4 separate regions of the Homo sapiens genome follow, and regions 1, 2 and 4 are each linked to region 3. The links come from fine-mapping of genetic effects on gene expression. A gene starts in region 3. Each other region holds a variant in brackets. All regions are shown on one strand. Distances are from middle to middle. Region 1 overlaps LCT (lactase). Region 2 overlaps R3HDM1 (R3H domain containing 1). Region 3 holds the start of MCM6 (minichromosome maintenance complex component 6). Region 4 holds the start of LCT (lactase).

Region 1 (5,646 bases), 59 kb before region 3:
TAGTAACTTCACAAGGCCAAGAGTCAGGAGTAAAGTGAGAACAAGCCCCTGGCAGTCTGATTCCAAGCCTGTTACTGTTACCCACACTGCTATTCTGCCTCTGTCCTTAATAAGTGCTTTTTGAGAAATTAGTCCATGGGGAGGATTATTTTAATTAGCACACAAGGGAGAGGAGGGCTCTTTCTTGCTTATTTGTTCTTCTTTCTATTTAATGGAATCTCGGAAGAAAAACCAAACTAGGAGTTTCTTTGTAGACTTAACTCATGCTCTTACAAACAGCAACAGCTTTTTGTGGGAAGTAGGGGCAAAAGGAGGGTGTCTGAAATATAACAAGCCTAGATTTAAATCTTGACTCTGTTACTAACTTGTTAACTTGGACAATTTATTCTCTCAACTTCAGCTTACTTGTTGGCAAGAAGTGGGTAATTATGGATCCATCTGGGATGATTAAATACGTGTATATAAAGCATTGAGCAGAAACTCAGAGAGCAGGAGTGAGCTTGCTAAATCTTAGCTTGCTTTCCTTTTTCCTTTTTATCATCTGAAGAGGATGACACTTACCTCTGAAGAATTTCATGTCAAAATATGCCATAATCACTAAAACGCCTGGCTGCTTCTCACATCCCAAATATTCGTCTTTAGTTGAGTTCTAAACTCGAATGGCAAACTGTGCTCCTTTCCCAAAAGCAAGGATGTCTTTCTTCTAAATTAGCCAGTGTCAGGAAGGGAGCTCAGTGGAATATTAGACAACCATCAAAAACAGTCATCACAACTGCTTAATAATAGGGAAAAGTGCTAATGACATGATATCAAGTAAACAGTGAGCAACAATCTGAGGTGCCCTGTGACAACATCATAAATGCAAAGAAGCCAAGACTGGAAGGAAATACTCTAAAATAATAAAATACCTTTTTTTTTTTTTTGAGATGGAGTCTCGCTCTGTCACCAGGCTGGAGTGCAGTGGCGCAATCTCGGCTCACCACAACCTCTACCTCCTAGGTTCAAGCGATTTTCCTGCCTCATCCTCCAGAGTAGCTGGGACTACAGGTGCCCGCCACCATGCCTGGCTAATTTTTGTATTTTTAGTAGAGACAGGGTTTCACTATGTTGGCCAGGCTGGTCTCGAACCCCTGATCTCGTGATCCGCCCGCCTCGGCCTCCCAAAGTGCTGAGATTACAGGTGTGAGCCACCGCGCCTGGCCCAAGACATTTTTTTCTTTAAATTTTTTCCTTAATAGTTGCTATGAACTGAATTAGTTCCCCCATCAAAATTCATATGTTGAAGCCCTAATCCCCAATGTGATGGTATTTGGAGATAGGGCCTTTGAGGGGTGATTAGATTTAGAGGAGGTCGTGAGGGTGGGACTCTCATGGTGGTGGTATTAGTGTCCTTATAAGAAAAGATACCAGTGAGTTCTTCCAACCACCCCTATATGAGGACAGCAAGAAGGTGGCTGCCTGCAGGCCAGGAAGAGAGCCCTCACCAGAACCCAAACATGCTGGTCCCTTGATCTTGGACTTCCCCAGCTCCAGAATGCTGGGAAATAAATATCTGTTGTTTAAACCACCAGTCTATGGTGTTTTGTTATTGCAGCTCAAGCTCACTAAGACAATGGCATTCTAACATTGAACTAATAAATAAAGGGAAGAATTGAAGGAGAAGAGTGAAGGGGACTTTCTCATCAAAGTCTCTGTAAAGATATCTCAAGAGCCACAGTTCAAAGGGGAAGAAAAGCCTAAGAAGAAAAGGTTTAGATAAGTTTTACAACAAGGAGTGAAACAGAAGATTTCAAACCTTCCATTTTCAGAAGGTGGGTGGTGGAATGGCTCCATATGTGCAGTCACTTGCTGCTCAAGAGCTGAATGGAAACTCTGACTTACGTGCTACAATGTTTGACATTTCATTGAGTTATTTATTCATGATGTTCCAGCTCACCCTAGTAATGGTCTTTTTGAAGAGTTCTGTAATTTTGCTACGTGTGTTAGTGTCATCTTCCCCAAAAGGTTATAACATGTCCAGGGCATGGCTGTGACCCCTCTTTAACACCTAGCACGGGACACAGGAAATAGTATTATTATTATTATTATTATTTTTGAGATGAAAGTCTCGCTTTGTCACCCAGGCTGCCCAGGCTGGAGTGCAGTGGCATAATCTCGGCTCACTACAACCTCCGCCTCCCAGGATGAAGTGATTCTCTTGCCTCAGCCTCCCAAGTAGATGGGATTACAGGCACCCACCAACATATCTGGCTAATTTTTGTATTTTAGTAGAGACAGGATTTCACCATGTTGGCCAGGCTGGTCTTGAACTCCTGACCTCCCAGGTGATCTGCCTGCCTTGGCCTCCCAAAGTGCTGGGATTACAGGCGTGAGCCACCATGCCCGGCCGGAAATACTCATCTTTAAGAATGGAACCCAAACAGTGACAGGGAAAAGGCAGACTAAC[A/G]TGTCCATCCTGAAGAACGCTGCCAAAGAAAGCTGGTGGGTTTTCTGGGAGATTCCGAAGAAAAAGGGAAATAATGGAAAAGACCTATAGCCATTTAAAATTTTGTGCCAAGTGTATACATCCCCTTCTTGTTGAAACGATGCCCTGACTGGCGTCTGGAAAGCCAATGCCTCCTTGCCTCTTCCCTCTCTGCCTCCTCAGCTCTCAGTGAGCGTATTGAGGAGTAAAGCATGGGTCCTTGGCCCACACCAGTCAGTTGTCACAGCCTCCTGGCCAGGACCCAGCAATGAGTTCAGGGTGGGTATGCGACCCACTGAGAGACCATGAGACACAGGGACACTTCTGTTGGGAAGGACAGAAAAGAGCCGAGCTTTTTTCCCTACTGGTCATGAAATAACAGAAACAGGGCTGCTGCCATCTGGCTGCAAAGTAGCCCAAGAATAAAGCCAACGAGGGGAACAGGAGAGGAACTGGGTCCTGGTGGCATCGCTTGTGCTCTGATCAAATTCCACCCTGATCAGGCTAAATGAAGAATTTTCAACCTCCTGAATGTGTAAATTCTCTCCTTGCTTAAGTCACTTTGGGTTGAGCTTTCTGTCACTTGTCACTGACATGAGGAACTTGATTTGGAGTCAAGAAGACTCGGACTCAAATCCTGACTTCCACCTGGCTACTCACTAGCAATGTCATCATGACCACATTGTTTATCCTGTCTGAGCCTCACTCATCCATCAGTGCTATTCTGAGTATGTAATAACTATTATATTTTAAAAGTACCAGTAGAGGGTCTGGACAAAATAAGGTGATTAACAATTTTTTTTTTTTTTTGAGACAGGGTCTTGCTCTGTTGACCAGGCTGGAGTGCAGTGGCAAAATCTTGGCTCACTGCAGCCTCTGCATACCAGGCTCAAGCGATCCTCCCACCTCAGTCTCCTGGGTAGGTGGGATCACAGGCGTGCAACACTATGCCCAGCTAATTTTTGTATTTTTTTTGCAGAGACAAGATTTCGCCATGTTGCCCAGTCTGGTCTCGAACTCCTGGACTCAAGAAATCTGCCTGCCTTGGCCTCCCACAGTGAAGAGATTACTGGCATGAGCCACTGCACCTGGCCAGGTGATTAACAATTTAATTAACAATTTATGGTTCCTTCCCTCCCCGATTTCCTTTAAAGAAAGAACAAAAAGTAAAGGCTTGCTGATGGAAGAAAACAGAGAAAATGACTTTCTTCCAGCCAATGTCCTTTCTCCTCCAATTAGTAGGAGCTGCAGGGTTGGGAAGTACCTTAAAAGAGGCCACTCCTGGGTCAGAGATGCCGGGAGGGTGCTGGCCGGTGCCATAGCCTGCGTAGCTCATCACCCACGGCTCATGGAAGGTCACCCACAGCTTCACACGGTCCCCAAATGTGGAGAAGCAGAAGGCCGCATAGTCCAGGAAGGCATCCACCACGCTCTCATTCTGCCATCCACCATGATCCTGCAGGGCCTGAGGCAGGTCCCAGTGGAACAGCGTGGCCATGGGCTCGATGCCCGCATCCTGTAGCCTGTCAATCAGCTTGTTGTAGTAGGCAACGCCTGGGAGGCTGGGGCTGCTCCCGTGCCCCATGGGGAAGATCCGGGACCAGGAGATGGAGAACTTGTACACCTGAGCCCGGAGGCCGCAAAGCAGGGCGACGTCAGAGGCTACCTTGTGGTAACTGTCGCTGGCCACCTCCAGCGTCGCTTGGCCCTCAGTGGTGTTCAGGGGCCTGCGTGGATCCCAGATGCTCACCCCTCTCCCACCCTCGGCCCAGCCTCCTTCCACGTTAAAGGCTCCTGTGGAGGCACCCCAGAGGAAGCCTTCAGGGAAAGTATCCTGCAGGAAGGCATCCCTTTCCGCCCTGGACTGATTGGCAAATGCTTCCCAGATTCTCTGATAGGCAGAGGCAGGAGAGGAGTCCGTGGTCTCGTGGTCCTGCTGCTGGTCAGGCTGAAGGGCCAGGCTGCCAGTCAGAGAACAAGACATGCTGCAGGATTGAAGGGACAAAAAGGGACATAATAATGAATGACGCTGGCAGTTACAAATGCCCCCTACGGATGACTACTGTGTTTAATCAGAAAAGATTCCAGAAACACTGAGTCAAAAGTCATATCTGCAAAGCCATGGGCAGGAAGTAACTGGCAGATGGGAAAATTATTATTATTACCCCTTCTGAGGTGAGTGATTCTTGCTCTTTCATGGTTAAAACAGGAACAATGCTACTGTTCTCTGTATTAGATTGCCCTTGAATATTGTCTTCAGTGTTAGTACCATACTTTATTCTTCTTATAATTCATTATTTGTAAAACATAGCTAATAATAACAATGACTCCAATTTATTGAGCCTTGATTCTGCGCTGGCCACTGTAATAAGAATGGATGTGTATTATCTCATTTAATTTTCCCAACAAATTTATGAGATGGGTACTACAATGATTTATCCTCATCCTACACAGGAGGAAACTGAGACTAAAAGAAACGGGGGCTGGGTGTGGTGGCTCATGCCTGTAATCCCAGCACTTTGGGAGGCCGAGGCAGGTGGATCACGAGGTCAGAAGTTCGAGACCAGACTGACCAACATGGGGAAACCCCGTCTCTACTAAAAATACAAAATTAGCCAGGCGTGGTGGTGGGGGCCTGTAATCCCAGCTACTCAGGAGGCTGAAGCAGGAGAATCACTTGAACCCGGGAGGCAGAGGTTGTGGTGAGCTGAGATCACGCCATTGCACTCCAGCCTGGGCAACAAGAGTGAAACTCCGTCTAAAAAAAGAAAAAGAAATGGAAAACTTCCTGATTTCAGGGAGCCAGCAGCTATTTATCAGCTGGTACAGAAGTACACTGATGTGGACCAGTTGAATATCAGTCCTGGCTACTGCTTCCTTTCTTCATGCTGCTTGGATTTCTGACATAATGGCAGGAGCTCAAGCATCCATCCTGAACCATGAGGTAGAAACCTTGTTAAAGGTGACAAAGCAACAACAAAGGAGCCTGGATTCCTGGTGATTATGAGTAACTTCTCCTTGCACACAGCTTGCAGGTGGTGGAGCAGATTCTGTGCTTTTAACCTCATACACATACATGTTTATGTGCATGTATATGCATGTACATATGTATATGCATATGAAATAAAACATCACATAAAAGTGCATGCTGCATTTATACAAAATGTGGTCTGATTTTTCTA
Region 2 (5,578 bases), 160 kb before region 3:
CTGAACCAGGAGGATTGCTTGACCCTGAGTGGTAGAGGCTGCAGTGAGCTGTGATCACACTACTGTACTCCAGCCTAGGTAACAGAGTGAGACCCTGTCTCAAAAAAAACAAAAGGAGGGGGAACAAAGGTTATTACAGATCAGCTCACAAACTACCAATGGCCATTAAACAGATGAAAATATAAAACTACTTTTCATCTATATAATTGGGAAAATTCAGGAAGACCAATAATCTGCCGTAGTAATAGTTTGGCAAAGATCAAGTTATAAGCTCTGGGACTCTCTTTGTGGTAGTGTAAATTGGTACAGCTCTTTGGAATGCACTTTGGAGACATTTTTCAAAATGTAGAATTTGATCCACAGATATGCTTCTGGAACTTTACCCAGTAAAAATTAAATAATAAGTGCAAAAATATGTGTACAATATTTCTTTTTTCCTGTTGTAATATTGAAAAACTGTGAACAGTCTTGACATTCACCAGTGGGTAACTGATTATTACTGTGCCATTTAGGAAAATGCCCTTAAGTGTGTAATACTGAAAAGAATAAGATAAACCTACTATTGAAATGGTAGTTTGTAAATAACCAGTCTCCATTAAAAGGAACTAGGGCTCCTTAGAAAAATAACTGTTGCCAGAGTTGGTGCAGGGAAAGTACCAGATGGGTGTAGGCCATCTTGGCTATGCCAGAAAGTAAGGAAGGGATGGAAGAAAAATAGGGACGTCTTGAAGAATACAGGATCAGGAGTGGAGGTTTGGGGCATAAAACAATGATAGAAATGAATGATCATCCATAGAATAAAATAAGAATTCATGAGTCCATACTGATAAAAATCAATAAATGGAAAATGAAACTGTCTTACCTTAGTGTAATATAAAGTGATAAATGTAGAATCGTGAAATTAAAAGATCACCACCAAGAAAACCATCAGGCAAGAGTCACCACTAGAGGCTACAAAACTAGTGGGTGAAATTCTGAGGAAAAGCATAATTTTTTTTTAAAGTATCTCCCTACAAGATACTTAAAACTACAAAGGAAAAAAATTGTAATTTACAGTGGAGAAACCTGATAGGCACCATGTTAACAAAGCAGTCGAAGTAAATATCACCAATACTGTGATGAGAGATAGACGTCAGGTTCCTTCTGATGTGATCCATTGAGAAGGACACATTACTTCTCTGGTGTTCCTTTCCCAAATATATAACATGAACTTTTTAATGAGGAGACAGCAGACAAACCCAAATTGAGGGACAGTCTACAAAATAACTGATCTTCCAAAACAAATCTTCAGAAATGTCAAAGTCATGAAAGAAAGAAGAGACTGTGCTGTTCTGCTTCAGATTAAAGAAGATTAAAGAGCCATGACAACAAAATGCAGCCCTTGATTCTAGTCTGGATTCTGGACTTGAAGGGAAACATTTTTCTTATCTTTTGCTATAAGGGACATTAGTGGGACACTTGGCAAAATTTAAATTAACTGTAGATTAGATAATACTATTGTATTGTTAATTTTCTGGCTTTTATTCTACTTTGATTATATTATAAAAGTCCTTGTTGTTAGGAAATAGACACTAATTATTTTGGGTTAAAGGAATATCATGTGAAATTCACTTTCAAACAGTTCCAAAAAACACAGTGATATATATGTATATATATGGGTGTATACACACACACACACACACACACACACAGAGAAAGCAGTGTAATAAAAGTTAAGATCATTTGGGAAATCTGGGAATTCTTTTACAATCTTAGGAACTATTCTCTAATGAAATTATTTAAATATGAAATGTTACAGTATTTAATATGAAAAAAGAGTGAGTTCGCTGTATGTATTCTCTCATGCAAAAGTATCGGCAATATTATTGCCAAGGTACAAAAGCAAGTTTTGAAAGTAGGATGTATAGTCTGTTCCCATTTTTGTGAAAAATGGATGTATGAATGCATGTGCATAGAAACAATCTGTTGGCCAGGTGCGATGGCTCACGCCTGTAATTCCAGCACTTAGGGAGGCTGAGCCAGGCGGATCACAAGGTCAGGAGATCGAGAACATCCTGGCTAACACAGGGAAACCTCATCTCTACTAAAAATACAAAAAATTAGCTGGGCATGGTGGCGGGTGCCTGTAGTCCCAGCTACAGGCTGGGACTGAGGCAGGAGGCTCAGGAGGCTGAGGCGGGAGAATGGCGTGAACCTGGGAGGCAGAGCTTGCAGTGAGCTGTGATTGCGCCACTGCACTCCAGCCTGGGCAACAGAGTGAGACTCCGTCTCAAAAAAAAAGAAAAAAAAGAAACCATCTGTTACCAGTGTTTATTTTGGGGAGTTGCAGATCACATGCTTCTATAATGTTTGAATTATTTTCTAACAAGTACGTATATGTAATCAGGAAGAATAAAAAATAAGCCTGCCCAAAATGCTGACCCATTTTCTTGACGTATTGTAATTGCAGCACAGCCCTCAACTCAGTAGCCCCATTATTTCACCAGCTCAGTCGCCAGCACCAGCTCAGCTGTCCACCCTGAAAACTGTACGTCCCTCTGGACCACCACTTTCCATCATGCCCCAATTTTCTAGACCTTTTGTCCCCGGGCAAGGTAAGTGCACATGAAACTAGTCACAACTTCAGAGAATTTAAGACATCCATTCCCAGTCACTTGGTAATTTATCTTGGTAATATTGCCTTTCTATTTTCCATAGAGCTGCATCTTCACCTACACTCAGGCATGTCTATTTGTGACCATATACCCTCCTAACCTTAATGTATCATTGCTAATTAATAATTATTAATTCAGTAATTACTTCTGTTTAGTAATTACATGATCACATTAAAATCACTTTAACTTATTCTTAGAATCCATTCCTCTATAGTAATAATACACAGTTTTCTACATTTTTTCGGTATTTTAATTTCTACTTAGAGTAATATATATCAAAAGTTTATCCAGGC[C/T]GGGCGCAGTGGCTTACGCCTGCAATCCCAGCACTTTGGGAGGCCAATGCGGAAGGATCACTTGAGGCCACTCAAGACCCTGTCTCTAGAGAAACTACAAAAATCAGCCAGAAGTGGTGGCACATGACTGTAGTCACAGCTACTCAGGAGGCTGAAGCGGGAGGATCACTTCAGCCCAGGAATTTAAGACTGCAGTGAGCTCTGATTATGCCACTGCATTCCAGCATGGACAGCAGAGCAAGACTCTTGTCTCAAAAATAAAACAGAAAAAAGAGATTATCCAAAAATTTATTCAGCAATCATTTATTAAGGAAATGGCTATGCCCTTGGTGTATAAAGATGAATAAGGAGAAGTCCTCACCCTCACTAACCCTTAGTCTACTTTGGGGAGCAGATATGCAAGCAGATGATTATAAACTAATATGGAAACCATTTTATTTCCTAGAATTTATCCTAAGGATAATGCACACAAAGATTTATATACAGAAGAGTTTATCCTATAGCAAAAAAAATTTACAAACAACCTAACTCTGTACATCAATGAGGAATACTTAAATTATGGTATATTCATACAAGGAATATTATGTAGCTATCTAAAGAATCACTAAAAGGGGGCAATATTCAGGCTAGGTGCGGTGGCTCACACCTGTAATCCCAGCACTTTGGGAGGCCCAGGCAGGTGGATCACAAGGTTAGGAGTTCAAGACCAGCCTGGCCAAGACAGTGAAACCCTGTCTCTACTAAAACTACAAAAACAAGCTGGGCGTGGTGGCAGGCACCTATAATCCCAGCTACTCGGGAGGCTGAAGCAGGAGAATCACTTGAACCTGGGCGGCAGAGGCTGCAGTGAGCCAAGATCGTGCCACTGCACTCCAGCCTGGGCGACAGAGAGAGGCTCCGTCTCAAAACAAAAAACAAACAAAAAAACAAACAAACACGGGGAGCAGTATTCACAATATGGTAAGTGATTTTGAAAAACAAGTTACACAGACATTTTGAAGTAGTATGCAGATGTCTAATAAGCCCTTGAAAAGATATTTAACATCAGTCATTATAGAAATGAATATCAAGCCAGAATACCACTTCACACCCATTAGAATGGCTATAATCAAAAAGACGGACAACACCAAATGTTAGTAAAGAATGTTCTCACTTGCCAGGCATGGTGGCTCACGCCTGTAATCTCAGCACTTCGGGAGGCTGAGGTGGGTAGATCACTTGAGGTCAGGAGTTCGAGACCAACCTGGCCAACATAGTGAAACCCCATCTCTACTAAAAATACAAAAATTAGCCGGGCACAGTGGCACATGCCTATAATCACAGCTACTTGGGAGGCTAAGGCAGGAGAATTGCTTGAACTCGGGAGGCAGAGGTTGCAGTGAGCCAAGATCGCACCACTGCACTCCAGCCTGGGCAACAAGATTGACACTGCATCTCAAAAAAAAAAAGAAGAATGTTCTCCCTTGAAAGTGGGAGCTAAACATTGATGAACACAAAGAAGGGAACAATAGACACTTGGGTCTACTTGAGGGGAAAGGGTGAGGATTGAAAAATACCTATTGGGTACTATGCTTATTACCTGGGTGATAAAATAATAAGTACACCAAACCCCCACAACATGCAAAATCCACATGTGAGTATTTAAAAAATAATGTTGGTAAAGATACAGAGCTACTAAAATTCTCACACATTGGCGGTAAGAGTGTACAGTGATGAAACCGCTTTAGGAAAAGGTATGGCAGTTTCCTAAGACTTTAATCATTTACCACATAACCCAGCAATTCCACTCCTGGGGGAAAGAGAATTGAAAACATGTTCACATAGTCTTGTGTACGAACATCTATAGCAACCTTATTTTATAATAGCTCAAACTGGACATGACCAACATGTCCATCAACAGGAGACTGGATACCCAAACAAGTTGTGCTATATCCTTAAAAGGGTACTACGCAACAATAAAAGTGAACAAAGCAAGCTACTGACACACAACAACATGATGACTCTCCGGGTCACGACGTTAACCAAAAAATAAGACAAAAAGAGAATATATTCTATATGATTCTAATTATATGAAATCCAGCTGCAGACAAACTAATCTGTTATGTTAAAAATCAGATAGTAGTAGAGATGGGGTGTGGAACTGACTGGGAAGGGACTGGAGGGAACTCTTCCAGGGATGGAAATGTTCTTTAAGGGGGTGGGGGAACAGGGTATGGTTACACGGACTTTTACAGTTGTTAGAATTCATCAGATTCAACACTTAGAATGTTTATTTTATTGATTGTATTGTATGTTAATTATATCTCAATTTCCTTAAAAACTTACACACACACATATGCATGAGTCAGCCCACACATGTAGAAGACTGAAAAGATAGACACCAAAATGTTAGAAGTGATGGAATTACCAGAGTGGGTTTTGTTGATGTTGGTTTGTTTGTTGTTGTTTGTTTTGAGACACTGTCTTATTCCATCGCCCAGGCTGCAGTGCAGTGGTGCACTTGTGGCTCGCTACAGCCTTAACCTCCCCGGGCTCAGATGATCCTCCCACCTCAACCTCCTGAGTAACTGGGCTTACAGGCACACCACCACACCTGGCTAATTTTTGTATTTTCGGTAGAGACAGGGTTTC
Region 3 (5,587 bases):
TGTTCCAGGTCCACAAAACTCACAACCAATGTGTTTCTCTCAGGACGAATCAGTTCCTCTGCTAATTGCAAGTATTTAATTTCTCCATCGCTGCTCTGAAACCTGCAGGTACATTCGAGTCAACTAGATTAAGGACACAGGCAGTACAAAGAACCTGAATGATAATTCAGAACATTGGTTAAAGTCCAACAACTAGGCTCAGACAGGCCCATGTTTGGCAGTTCTGTAACTTGGGGCAAGTTACTCCTCCCTTCTGATATGGTTTGGCTGTGTCCCCACCCAAATCTCGACTTGAATTTCCACATGTTGTGGGAGGCACCTGGTGGGAGTTAATTGAAGCATGGGGACAAGTCTTTCCCCTGCTGTTCTCTGATAGTAAGTCTCACGAGATCTGATGGTTTTAAAAAGAGGAGTTCCTCTGCACAAGCTCTCTTTGCCTGATGCCATCCACGTAAGACATCAGTGACTTGCTCCTCCTTGCCTTCCACCATGATTGTGAGGTTTAACTGCTAACTAACAAAAAAACCCAACAACTAACTCTTCTTTTACTACTGTCATGTATAATTAAGATTGGAAAATGTTAAATCAAGAAATTCAGTCTCAAACCCAATGATTCCATTTCTGTAGGGAATTTGCAAACTAACAAATTAGTCAGGGATTTAAGAAGCAGAACAGAAATAAGAATACATGGAAATGAGGTGTTTCACAGCCCAAGACTTCGGGAAAATTGAAACAGGCACACTAAATAAAGCTGCTGGTATTTTTGCTTCTAAAGCCCAAGCAGGATATCATACAAATTTATTTCTGTTCTTTCAAACATAATATGCAGATTCGCCTTAAGAAAAAATCAATTTCTCCTCCATATACAGCATGTTCTGACTCCTTAAAATATTTGTTAAACAACTACGTGCAAAGCCCTATAACAGAGGTACCTGAGGCTGAAAATGGCAGTGTTGTTCCTGCCCTAGGGTTAACTAACACTTTGTCTGCGTCTAGGGAGTTAGACATGTAAGCAATGAAGACAGACAAGAAAGATGTTCCTGTTAATGAGAAGAACAAGAAATGTGCTAGGGGAATAGAAACTAATTCTGCCTAAAAAAACAACTACAAGTTATACATATAAAAGGTGGCGTTGGAATTCAGCTTCTGAAAGAGTTAAAAATTTCAAATAAAAACAGGTGGTGAAGTGACTGACTAGATGATTCCAAGAATGTGATTAAGTCAGAGAAGGTAGGGGAGAAGTGTGGATGATGACTGGGGTGTTTTTGTAAGACAAACAGGAAAGAGGAGTGATGAAGAATTTGAACTTTATTCCACAAGCAATGGTGAATTAAAGTTTATTTTGTGACAGGGAGTTGGCATTTCTTTAAACAAAGCACAGAGATTATTTGTCTCATCATTATCATCTAGCTGCAAAGTCAAGGCACTTAGATTATTTGTTGAAATGAAACGTTTATTGAAAAACCTTTGTAATGTGATGTGGTGGGTAGGTGGGGTTGAGGATGGAATTTGAATTCCAGACTAAGTAGCTAGGAGGTAAATGTGTTACACTGCCAGAGATAATGAAAAACAAACAGCACCCTGGGAGCCTAAGGAAGAAAGGATTAGTGCCTCTCAAAAAGGTGTACAAGGTTTCACAAAGGTGTGAGTTTTTAGCTGGGCTTTGAAGGAGGAACTATCAGGCAGACAATAACATTGCCATAGGTAGTGAAATGGAAATTAAATTATGGTTTTAAGTATACCAAAATTTCCTAAGAAGGCAGCATTATTCACAATAGCCAAAAGGTGGAATGAACCTCATTATTCACAATAGACAAAAGGTGGAATGAACCTGTGTCCACTGAATGGATAAGCAAAATGCAGTATATATACAGGTTGAGCAGCCCTCATCTGAAAATTTAAAATATGAAATGGTCCAAAATCTGAAACTTTTTGAGTGCTGACATGATTTTCACTGGAGCATTTCAAATTAGGGATGCAATTGGTTAAGTATAATGTAAACATTCCAAATCTGAAAAAAAAATCCAAGATCCCAAACTCTTCTGGTCCCAAGCGTTTCAGAAAAGGGATACTCAATGTGTACAGACAATGTTATTTAGCCTTAAAAAGTAAGGAAATTCTGACACATGCTACCTCGCAGAGGAACCTTGTAGACATTATGTTACACAAGCCAGACACAAAAGGACAAATACTACACGCTTCCACTTATATGAGGTACCTAGAGTGGTCAAACTCATAATGAAAGGAAGCAGAGTGGTGGGTGACGGTGGCTGAGGGAGAGGGTAACGGAGGAGAGTTCGTGTTTAATGGGCACAGAATGTCAGTTTGGAAGATGAAAAGAGTTTGGAGCCGGACACGGTGGCTCACGCCTGTAATCACTTTGGGAAGCCCAGGCGGGGGGATCACCTGAGGTCGGGAGTTCAAGACCAGCCTGACCAACATGGAGAAACCCCATCTCTACTAAAATACCAAATTAGCCGGGCGTGGTGGCGCATGCCTGTAATTCCAGCTAGTAGGGAGGCTGAGGCAGGAGAATAGCTTGAACCCGGGAGACGGAGGTTGCGGTGAGCTGAGATGGTGACACTGCACTCCGGCCTGGGCAACAAGGGCTAAATTACGCCTCAAAAAAAAAAAAGTTTGGAGATGGGAGAGTGGTGACGGCTGCACAACGAGGTGAATGCACTTAGTGCCACTGGACTCTACACTTAAAAATGGCTAAAATGGTCAACTTTGTTATGTATATTTTACTAAAAAAGAACTTCAAAAGCCATTCCAAACTGCTGACCCTTCATCCTGGAGGCCGTGGTGTATCTGCTCCAGGAAAAATAACCGGTGGGTGAGGCAAGCCAGGGAGGAGGTTGGGGTTATGAAGCTAGGAGCCCAGAGGCACAGAAAAAAAGAAGAGTAGAGAAAGGAAAGGAAGGCCAGAGGGAAAGGGGAGCAAGGGACCCAGAAGAAGGGATATGGTGAGCTACTCTCTGCAGGGCAGGGCTCCGCCCCCCAGCAGCTTTCAAACCACAGTTGACGCAGAAACTTTCATCAGCACAAGAGGCGAGGGTGGCCCGTGCCCTGCGAACCCCCAGCACCATGCTCCCGGCTGCGTGGCCCAGCAGGGCACCGACGAGATTCAATGGCACTTCGGCCTCCCACTCGACCTGGCCGCACCCAGCGGCCCAGTTACTATACTCAGCGAGCCCAGGTTTCCGCGCCGGTCACCGAGGGCTGTGCAAATACCAGGCTCGCGGGGTGGTGAGCATCAAGTGACAGAAGCAAAGCGCTGAGCACTGGGCACGAGCGTCTTAGGGCTCGAGATGGGTTTTACTCCAGAAAAACCCAGCCTGTCCCAGGCTCCTCGCGGCCGCCGGGCTCGGAGCCTAAAGTTGGGGGGCGGGCGGGGAGGCGCTTCCCGGACGCGCGACCCCCAGGTTCCGGAACACCCGCCGCCCACACGGCACCGCCTGGCCCAGACGCCGCAGGCTCCGGAGGCGGGCGAGGCCCGGGGCGCTCGCCGACTTACTCCTCCAAGAAGTCCAGGAACAGTTTCTGGCACTTCTCGGCCACCTCGTCGCGGACCTCCAGGTGCTGGCTGCCGGCGCCCGGCTCCGCTGCCGCCGCGAGGTCCATATTTGCTTAGTGCCGAGGATTCGCCTGCGCCACGCTCGACCGCCACAAGTCGCTTTTTTCCAGACGCTGCAGCTTTGCGCGCGCCGCCGCCGCTTCCGCCCCGCCCCCTCTTCCGACCTGCACGGCCGGAACCAATCGTGACACAGGAGCTGGAGATTTCGCGCCAAACCTGACCAATGAACGGCGCCTCTCCAAGAGCCCCAGCCCACGGAAAGGGATTTCGCGCCAAATGCAAAGCCCTTCTGGAGAAAGCCCATCTGCCTTTGCGCCTGCGCAGTGTAGCCGTGGCCCGCGGGTATTTTTGGCTGCTGGAACAAGTTCGAATCTGAGGGTTTTGTCCGAGTGGTTTTTCAAATGTTCTTTAAATCATTCCACTGATATTAATTGAACGATCGGAGTAAGACTCTATGGAAGAGAAAAATGAGTAAGCCGCTTCTGCTGTCTAGTTAGAGGAAATAATGGAAACCACAGTATAAAACCCTGTAAAAGAGTCAAAGAGATGTCTAAACCTTGCATGGGTAAGGTGGCACAATTATTGTGGTGGTGCTGACCGAGGAAAATCAGCGAAATATTTGACATTGGCCGGGCGCGGTGGCTCACAACCTGTAATCCTAGCACTTTGGGAGGCCGAGGCGTGTGGATCACCTGAGGTCAGGAGTTCGAGACCACCCTGGCCAACATGCAGAAACCCCATCTCCCCTAAAAATACAAAAATTAGTCGGGCGTGGTGGTGCACGCCTGTAATCCCAGCTACTCGGGTGGCCGAGGCAGGAGAATCGCTTGAACCTGGGAGGAGGAGGTTGCAGTGGGCCGAGATCGTGTCACTGCACTCCAGCCTGGGCAACACAGTGTGACTCCGTCTCAAAAAAAAAAAAAAAAAAAAGAAAGAAAAAGAAAAAGAAAGAAATATTTGACACTTTGATTAATCTTTTTTTCTTTTTCTTTTCTTTTTTTTTTCAGATGAAGTCTCACCCAGTCGCTCAGGCTCGAGAGCAGTGGCGCGATCTCGGGTCACTGCAACCTCCAGCTCCCGGGTCCAGGGGATTCTCCTGCCTCAGCCTCCTGAATAGCTGGGATTGTAGGCGCCCGCTACCATGCCCAGCCAATTTTTGTATTTTTAGTAGAGACAGGGTTTTCGCCATGTTGGCCAGGCTGCTCTCAAACTCCTGACCTCAGGTGATCCGTCTGCCTCGACCTCCCAAAGCGCTGGGATTACGGCCGTGAGCCACAGCGCCCGGCCTTAATACCCTTCTTAAAATGCACTATTGGCTTGAGTTATCCTTATGTTTTTTTCCCCCATCTTTCCCTAACCATTTCACTTGGTTTTTCTGCCATCTCTTTGGCCATTCCTGATTAGCATCCTTTGTAGGCGCCTCTCCTTCAGTGAGTCTTTTAAATGTTCTGGTTCCAGAGCCTTCTTTTCCCGTAAAGTCGCTCTCTTGGGCGACCCTTTACACTCCCTTGGCGTTAATTAACATCTGGGTACTGATGATATCTATATGTGTATTTCACCAACCAGTACCTTTTTTTGGCCTCCAAGACATTAAGAGAAACGGGGACCACTTCCATTTTTTGAGGCTTGTTGCATATTAAAAATATTTTTTCTTTCTTTTCTTTTTTTGAGACGAGGTCTTACTATGTTGTGCAGGCTGACCTTGAACACCTGGTCTCCAGCAATCTGCCTGCATCCGCCTCCCGAGTAGCTGGGATTTCCTGCCACCACCAAATCCAACTTATTGAAAAATTTTTTCTTTTTCTTTTTTTTCTTTCTTTTCTTTCTTTCTTTCTTTCTTTTTTTTTTGGAGACAGAGTCTCGCTCTGTCATTAGGCTGGAGTGCAGTGGCAGGATCTCGGATCACTGCAGCCTCTGCCTCCCAGGTTCAAGCAATTCTTCTGCCTCAGCCTCCTGAGTAGCTGGGACTACAGGCGCACACCGCCACGCCCGGCTGATTTTTTTTGTTTT
Region 4 (5,646 bases), 40 kb before region 3:
TTCTGAGGCATTTACAGAAATGTCAAACCAATAGACCAAAACTTCTCTTGTTTTTAAAAAATTAAAATCAAACTCTCCTCAGATGTTACAGGTATATTTTTGGGCTGCTGTCACCTGGGCAAGCGCAGATATGGGTGGTTCTAGCAGGAGCTCCGGGATATCTTCAGCTCGCAGGACAACAGAGAGTTTTCCGCCTGAAACCAACCAGAGACACGAACAGCAGGTGAGCGAGGGCAGGAGGCTCTGACTGTGGAAACCACTGGGGGATTCATTTCCTATGGACCTGAAGAAATCATCCAAATGACTTTACTCTAGCTGAAAGATTTTAGAAGACAAGGTGGCTTAAAAAAATAATGTTCCTTTAGAGAGTGTTTTGTGAAAATCAGGACTATGAAATGCAGAGCAGTTGGAGAGTTGGCAAGGAGAGAACTCCTTCCTAAACTTCTTTTTTTTTTTTTTTTTTTTTTTGAGACGGAGTCTCGCTCCGTCGCCCAGGCTGGAGTGCAGTCGTGCCATCTCGGCTCACTGAAAGCTCCGCCTCCCGCGTTCACGCCATTCTCCTGCCTCAGCCTCCCGAGTAGCTGGGACTACAGGGGCCCGCCACCACGCCCGGCTAATTTTTTGCATTTTTGGTAGAGACGGAGTTGCACCGGGTTAGCCAGGATGGTCTCGATCTCCTGACCTCATGATCTGCCCGCCTTGGCCTCCCAAAGTGTTGGGATTACAGGCGTGAGCCACCGCGCCCGGCCATCTTAACTATTTTTAAGTGCACAGTTCAGTATTATTAAGTATATTCACATTGTTGTGCAACCAATCTCCAGAACTTTTTCATTTTTCTGAACAGAAATTCTACTCCCATTAAAGAGCTCTCCATTTCTCCCCTACCCCAGCCCCTGGCCTCTGCCATTCTCCTTCCTCTCTCCATGAATTCGACTGCTCTAGTTTCCTCCTATACATGGAATCATACAGCGTTTGTCTTTTTGTGTCTGGCTTATTTCACATAGCATAATGTCCTCAAGGTTCATCCATGTTGTAGCATGTGATGATTTCTTCCCTTTTTAATAAATGTGGAGTAATATTCCATTTTATGTCTATGCCACGTCTCGTTTATCCATTCATCCATCAGTGGATATCTGGGTTGCTTCCACCTTTTGGCTATTGTGAATAAGGCAGCTATGATGTCCTAGTTTATTTTTCATTTATTTTTGAGACAGAGTCTCGCTCTGTCGCCCAGGCTGGAGTGCAATGGCGCAGTCTCGGCTCACTGCAACCTCCGCCTCCCAGGTTCAAGCGATTCTCCTGCCTCAGCCTCCTGAGTAGCTGGGACTACAGACACGTGCTACCACGCCTCGCTAATTTTTTGTATTTTTAGTAGAGATGGGGTTTCACCGTGTTAGCCAGGATGGTCTCGATCTTCTGACCTTGTGACCCGCCTGCCTCAGCCTCCCAAAGTGCTGGGATTACAAGCGTGAACCACCACGCCTGGCCTTATTTTATTTTTTTGTTTAAGGCCGGGCGTGGTGGCTCACGCCTGTAATCCCAGCATTTTGGGAGTCCGAGGCGGGCGGATCACCTGAGATCAGAAGTTTGAGTCCAGCCTGGCCAACACGGTGAAACCCCATCTCTACTAAAAATACAAAAATTAGCCAGATGTGGTGGTGCGTGCCTGTAATCCCAGCTACTGGGAAGGCTGAGGCAGGAGAATTGCTTGAACTCGGGAGGCAGAGGTTGCAGTGAGCCGAGATCACACCACTGCACTCCAGCCTGGACAAAAGAGTGAGACTCCATCTCAAAAAAAAAAAAAAAAAAAAAAAGAAGAAGAAAAAAATGTTTAACGTCTCTATAATCAAATACATGCAAATTAACAAGACATGAAAATAAGCTGTTTTCAGCTGTCAAATTAGTAATAAAATATAGCATTTGAAACTGACAGAATGGGGTCAGAGAGTAATTTTATAACTGTTCGTATAAATGATTACAACTTTTCTGGAAAATAATTTAGTACCATGCTTTAAAATCTTAAAGAATGCAGATCTTTTCACCTAGTAGTTTCAATTCTAAGATTCTGTCAGAAAGAATTTATCAGAAGGTGGGAAATAGTTTATAGATAGGAATGTCATTGCAACATAACTTGTAACTAGTGAAAATTAGAATAAACATACAAAAATAAGGAAAATACCTTAAACTTTATGCTCCATTTATACAATGGGAACCTAAAAGACCATTGAAAGTTATGCTTTCAAGTTTTTCTTTTGTTTTAAGCAATACTATTCCAGCACTGGAGTAAATTATTATATTATTTTAGAGATAGTGGCTCTCTATGTTGCCCAGGCTGGTCTCCAACTCCTGGCCTCAAGCAATCCCCCTGCCTTGGCCTCCTAACGTGCTGGGATTATAGGCATGAGCCACCATGCCTGGCTCAAGTTTTTAATAAAATGAGAATATAGTCATAAACTATGTTAAAATGAAAAAGTAGAACATAGAAGTATATATATATATATATATATATATATATATATATATATATATATATATCAGGTACTATATATACAAATATGTATGTATATGGTATATAATAAAAACAAGAAAGCATATATAATCCAAAATTGATTCTCAAAATTGGTGTACCTAACATACACTTAGGGAATTGATTATAATCACAAATGTCCTGGTTCAGCCTAGGCCTACAGATCAGAACTTCAAGTCCCCTAGGAGGCAGGAATGTGAACAGTTACAGTTGTGCTCTCCTCATCCTGTGATATATAATTGTTTCATCTTGTATTTGTCTGTCTCCCAAGCTGCAATGTAAGCTCCAACTAAGACATGTAAGTATAGGGGAGCCGAGGGGGAAGGACAGGAAACCACGAAACTTTGCCTCCAAGTCAGGGTAGCAGGACATAGACGGAAAGGAAGACAGAAAGACAATCAGTGCTTGCACAACTCAAGACTGGGCAAGGGGTATTTCAAAAATACATGTGTGTATATATATATATATATATATATATATATATATATATATGTATACATATTTTTTTTTTTTGAGATTGTGTCTTGCTCTGTCGCACAGGCTGTAGTACAGTGGCATGATTTCGGCTCACTGCAACATCTGCCTCCTGGGTTCAAGCAATTCTCCTGCCTAAGCCTCCCGAGTAGCTGGGATCACAGGCGCCTGCTACCATCCCTGGCTAATTTT[G/T]GTATTTTTAGTAGAGACGGGGTTTTGCCATATTGGCCAGGCTGGTCTCGAACTCCTGACTTCAAGTGATCCGCCCACCTCGGCCTCCCAAAGTGCTAGGATTACAGGCGTGAGCCTCAAAGATATTTTTCAAAGGAAATGCTGAGTGTTTTGCCATGTTAGCTACCCCTTCCTATCGCCAGTGGGAAATCAATTTACAATATTAATTTCTCCCTATGCACAGACATAAGAGGACTGCTGAAGGTGAGTTGGGAGAAATGTCGAATCTGCTCTAAGGAGGATGGGGAAGGTGTGTGATGAAGGTTGCCGAGGGGTCACCATCAGGTCAATGTGTACTCACCCTGAAAAGCATAGCTTTCGTGGTAAATCTCATAGGCTTTTCTGTGGGCATCACTGAGGGTCTGGAGTTGTGACGCTCTTGATTCCTGGTGGGGAAGCTCCTTGATCACTTCCTCCAAGTCACTGAAGGTGAACCAGATCCCAACTAGGTCCCCGAAGGAGTGGAAGGCGAATGTGGCATAGTCGGCGAAGAGGTCAGCAAAGGCTTCGGTTCTCCGGAGGGTGCTGGCAGGGAGGGTCTGGTGGTGCAGGATGACCATGGGCTGAAGCCGTGCAGTCTTGAGGGCCTTGAGGAGTCGCCGGTAGCACTGCACTGTTTTCTCGTCTGGATTCTGGGTGCTTCCTGCTGGGAGGAGCTGTGCCCATGACAGAAATACCTTATAATGGGTGATCTGACTGGCATGGAGACTGCTGAAGTATTCTGGCAGGAAAGTGGGCAGTGGCTGGTGACAAACATACATGTCTTTGTCCCCTGCTACAAAGTTAGAACTCTGGTCTCCCAGGAGACCACTCAGGTTGTGCAGCAAGTCATTGGTTAGAGGACCAGCGGTGGAAATGAAATTTCTATCAGACTCCCAGTCTGACCCCCAGCATGAAAAACTTAGCAGGGCAATAAAGACTACATGCCAAGACAGCTCCATTTTCTAGGAACTGTTAGGAGGTATGTGGAACCCTTACTTTATAACTGCAACTGAGGTTGTAAAATACTAAGTGATAATTAAGACTTAATATTTAACTGGGTTATCTATGATCACAAAATCAGTACACGGTTCACTAATGCAATATTTAAAAATGTAAAGATCAGGGCCGGGCGTGGTGGCTCACACCTGTAATTCCAGCACTTTGGGAGGCCGAGGTGGGCGGATCACGAGGTCAGGAGATCGAGACCGTCCTAGCTAACATGGTGAAACCCCATCTCTACTAAAAATACAAAAAATTAGCCAGGCATCGTGGCATGCGCCTGTAGTCCCGGCTACTCAGGAGGCTGAGGCAGGAGAATCACTTGAACCCAGGAGGCGGAGGTTGCAGGAGCCAAGATCATGCCACTGCACTCCAGCCTGGGCAACAGAATGAGACTCCATCTTAAAAAAAAAAAAAAAAAAAAAAGGTAAAGACCAACACAAAAACCTCAGACTTCCTATACAAGTTAAGCAGAGGAACCCGGAAAATGTCTGAAGAAAACGATTACCAATTTTTTTTGTTTTTTTTGTTTTTTGGTGACCGGGTCTCACTCTGTTGCCCAGGTGGGAGTGCAGTGGTGCGATCACAGCTTCCTGCAGCCTTGACTTCCTGGGCTCAAGTGATCCTCCCATCTCAGCATCCTGGGTAGGTGGGACCATAGGTGTGCGCCACCACGACTGGCTAATTTTTTGTATTTTTAGTAGAGATGGAGTTTTGCCATGTCACCCAGGCTGGTCTTGAACTCCTGGGCTCAAGCAATCCTCTTGCCTCAGCCTCCTAAAGTGTTGGGATTACAGGTGTGAGCCAGCGCACCCAGCCACACATTATTTTAAAATTTGTTTACATAATACAAAAATAAGTATTTTGCCCCAAATTTTCTCTTTAAAAATATGCTGAACATATTTTGTAAGAGATTCAAACAATATGGAAACATCTATGAAAAACTTGCAAATTCCTTCACCCTCCCCCCTCCTCTTCCTATAATAAGTATCTTCAGCAATATGTATCTTTCCAGTTTTCTTTCTCTGCATATCTTAATGGTTATACAGGAGTCAGAATGCCTGGGTTTAAATCTCACCTGACAAAAATTACTTAACTTTGTGCCTCTATTTTGTCACCTGTAGAATGTGGATAATTCATCATAGGCTGTGGGGATTAAATGGGTCTTTCTTGTAGCATGTATACAACAGTACAGCTCAGGGATCATTATTATTACGTAAATACAAATGGAAACGTGTATAACATTTAAAATATAGAACAATTTAACATATATGGAATTATGCCATATGTATTTTCAGCCTTTTCTTCACTTAATAGCTCTTAGAGTTCTGCCTGTATCAGAACATATAGACCCACCTCTAACAGATGCATAGCTTTCCACAGCAAGAATGTACCATAAATTAACATCTTGCATATTAAACACCGGTTGGTTT

What was found. PIP is the estimated chance that this variant, and not a neighbour inherited with it, causes the effect.
Region 1: its variant is the best candidate, but not a certain one, in a credible set for the expression of MCM6 in thyroid (GTEx, PIP 0.86).
Region 2: its variant is the best candidate, but not a certain one, in a credible set for the expression of MCM6 in whole blood (TOPMed, PIP 0.64).
Region 4: its variant is the best candidate, but not a certain one, in a credible set for the expression of MCM6 in whole blood (TOPMed, PIP 0.69).

Annotation. Positions count from the first base shown.
Region 1 is chr2:135,813,613-135,819,258 of GRCh38, forward strand. LCT (lactase) reads right to left here. Exons shown (of 17, transcript NM_002299.4): 6 at 3,729-4,449. Among named protein-coding and RNA genes, the nearest start is that of LCT-AS1, 3.8 kb to the right of the region's middle. RefSeq lists an enhancer at 3,778-4,977. The variant A/G (reference allele first, on the strand shown) is at 2,447.
Region 2 is chr2:135,713,101-135,718,678 of GRCh38, forward strand. It overlaps R3HDM1 (R3H domain containing 1), which reads left to right. Exons shown (of 27, transcript NM_001378107.1): 24 at 2,450-2,594. Among named protein-coding and RNA genes, the nearest start is that of UBXN4, 26 kb to the right of the region's middle. The variant C/T (reference allele first, on the strand shown) is at 2,948.
Region 3 is chr2:135,872,742-135,878,328 of GRCh38, forward strand. It overlaps MCM6 (minichromosome maintenance complex component 6), which reads right to left and starts at 3,702. Exons shown (of 17, transcript NM_005915.6): 1 at 3,518-3,702; 2 at 1-102. The coding sequence starts at 3,624. RefSeq lists enhancers at 2,792-3,327, 3,097-3,226, 3,917-3,976 and a silencer at 3,297-3,456.
Region 4 is chr2:135,832,997-135,838,642 of GRCh38, forward strand. It overlaps LCT (lactase), which reads right to left and starts at 4,188. Exons shown (of 17, transcript NM_002299.4): 1 at 3,534-4,188; 2 at 115-194. The coding sequence starts at 4,173. The variant G/T (reference allele first, on the strand shown) is at 3,194.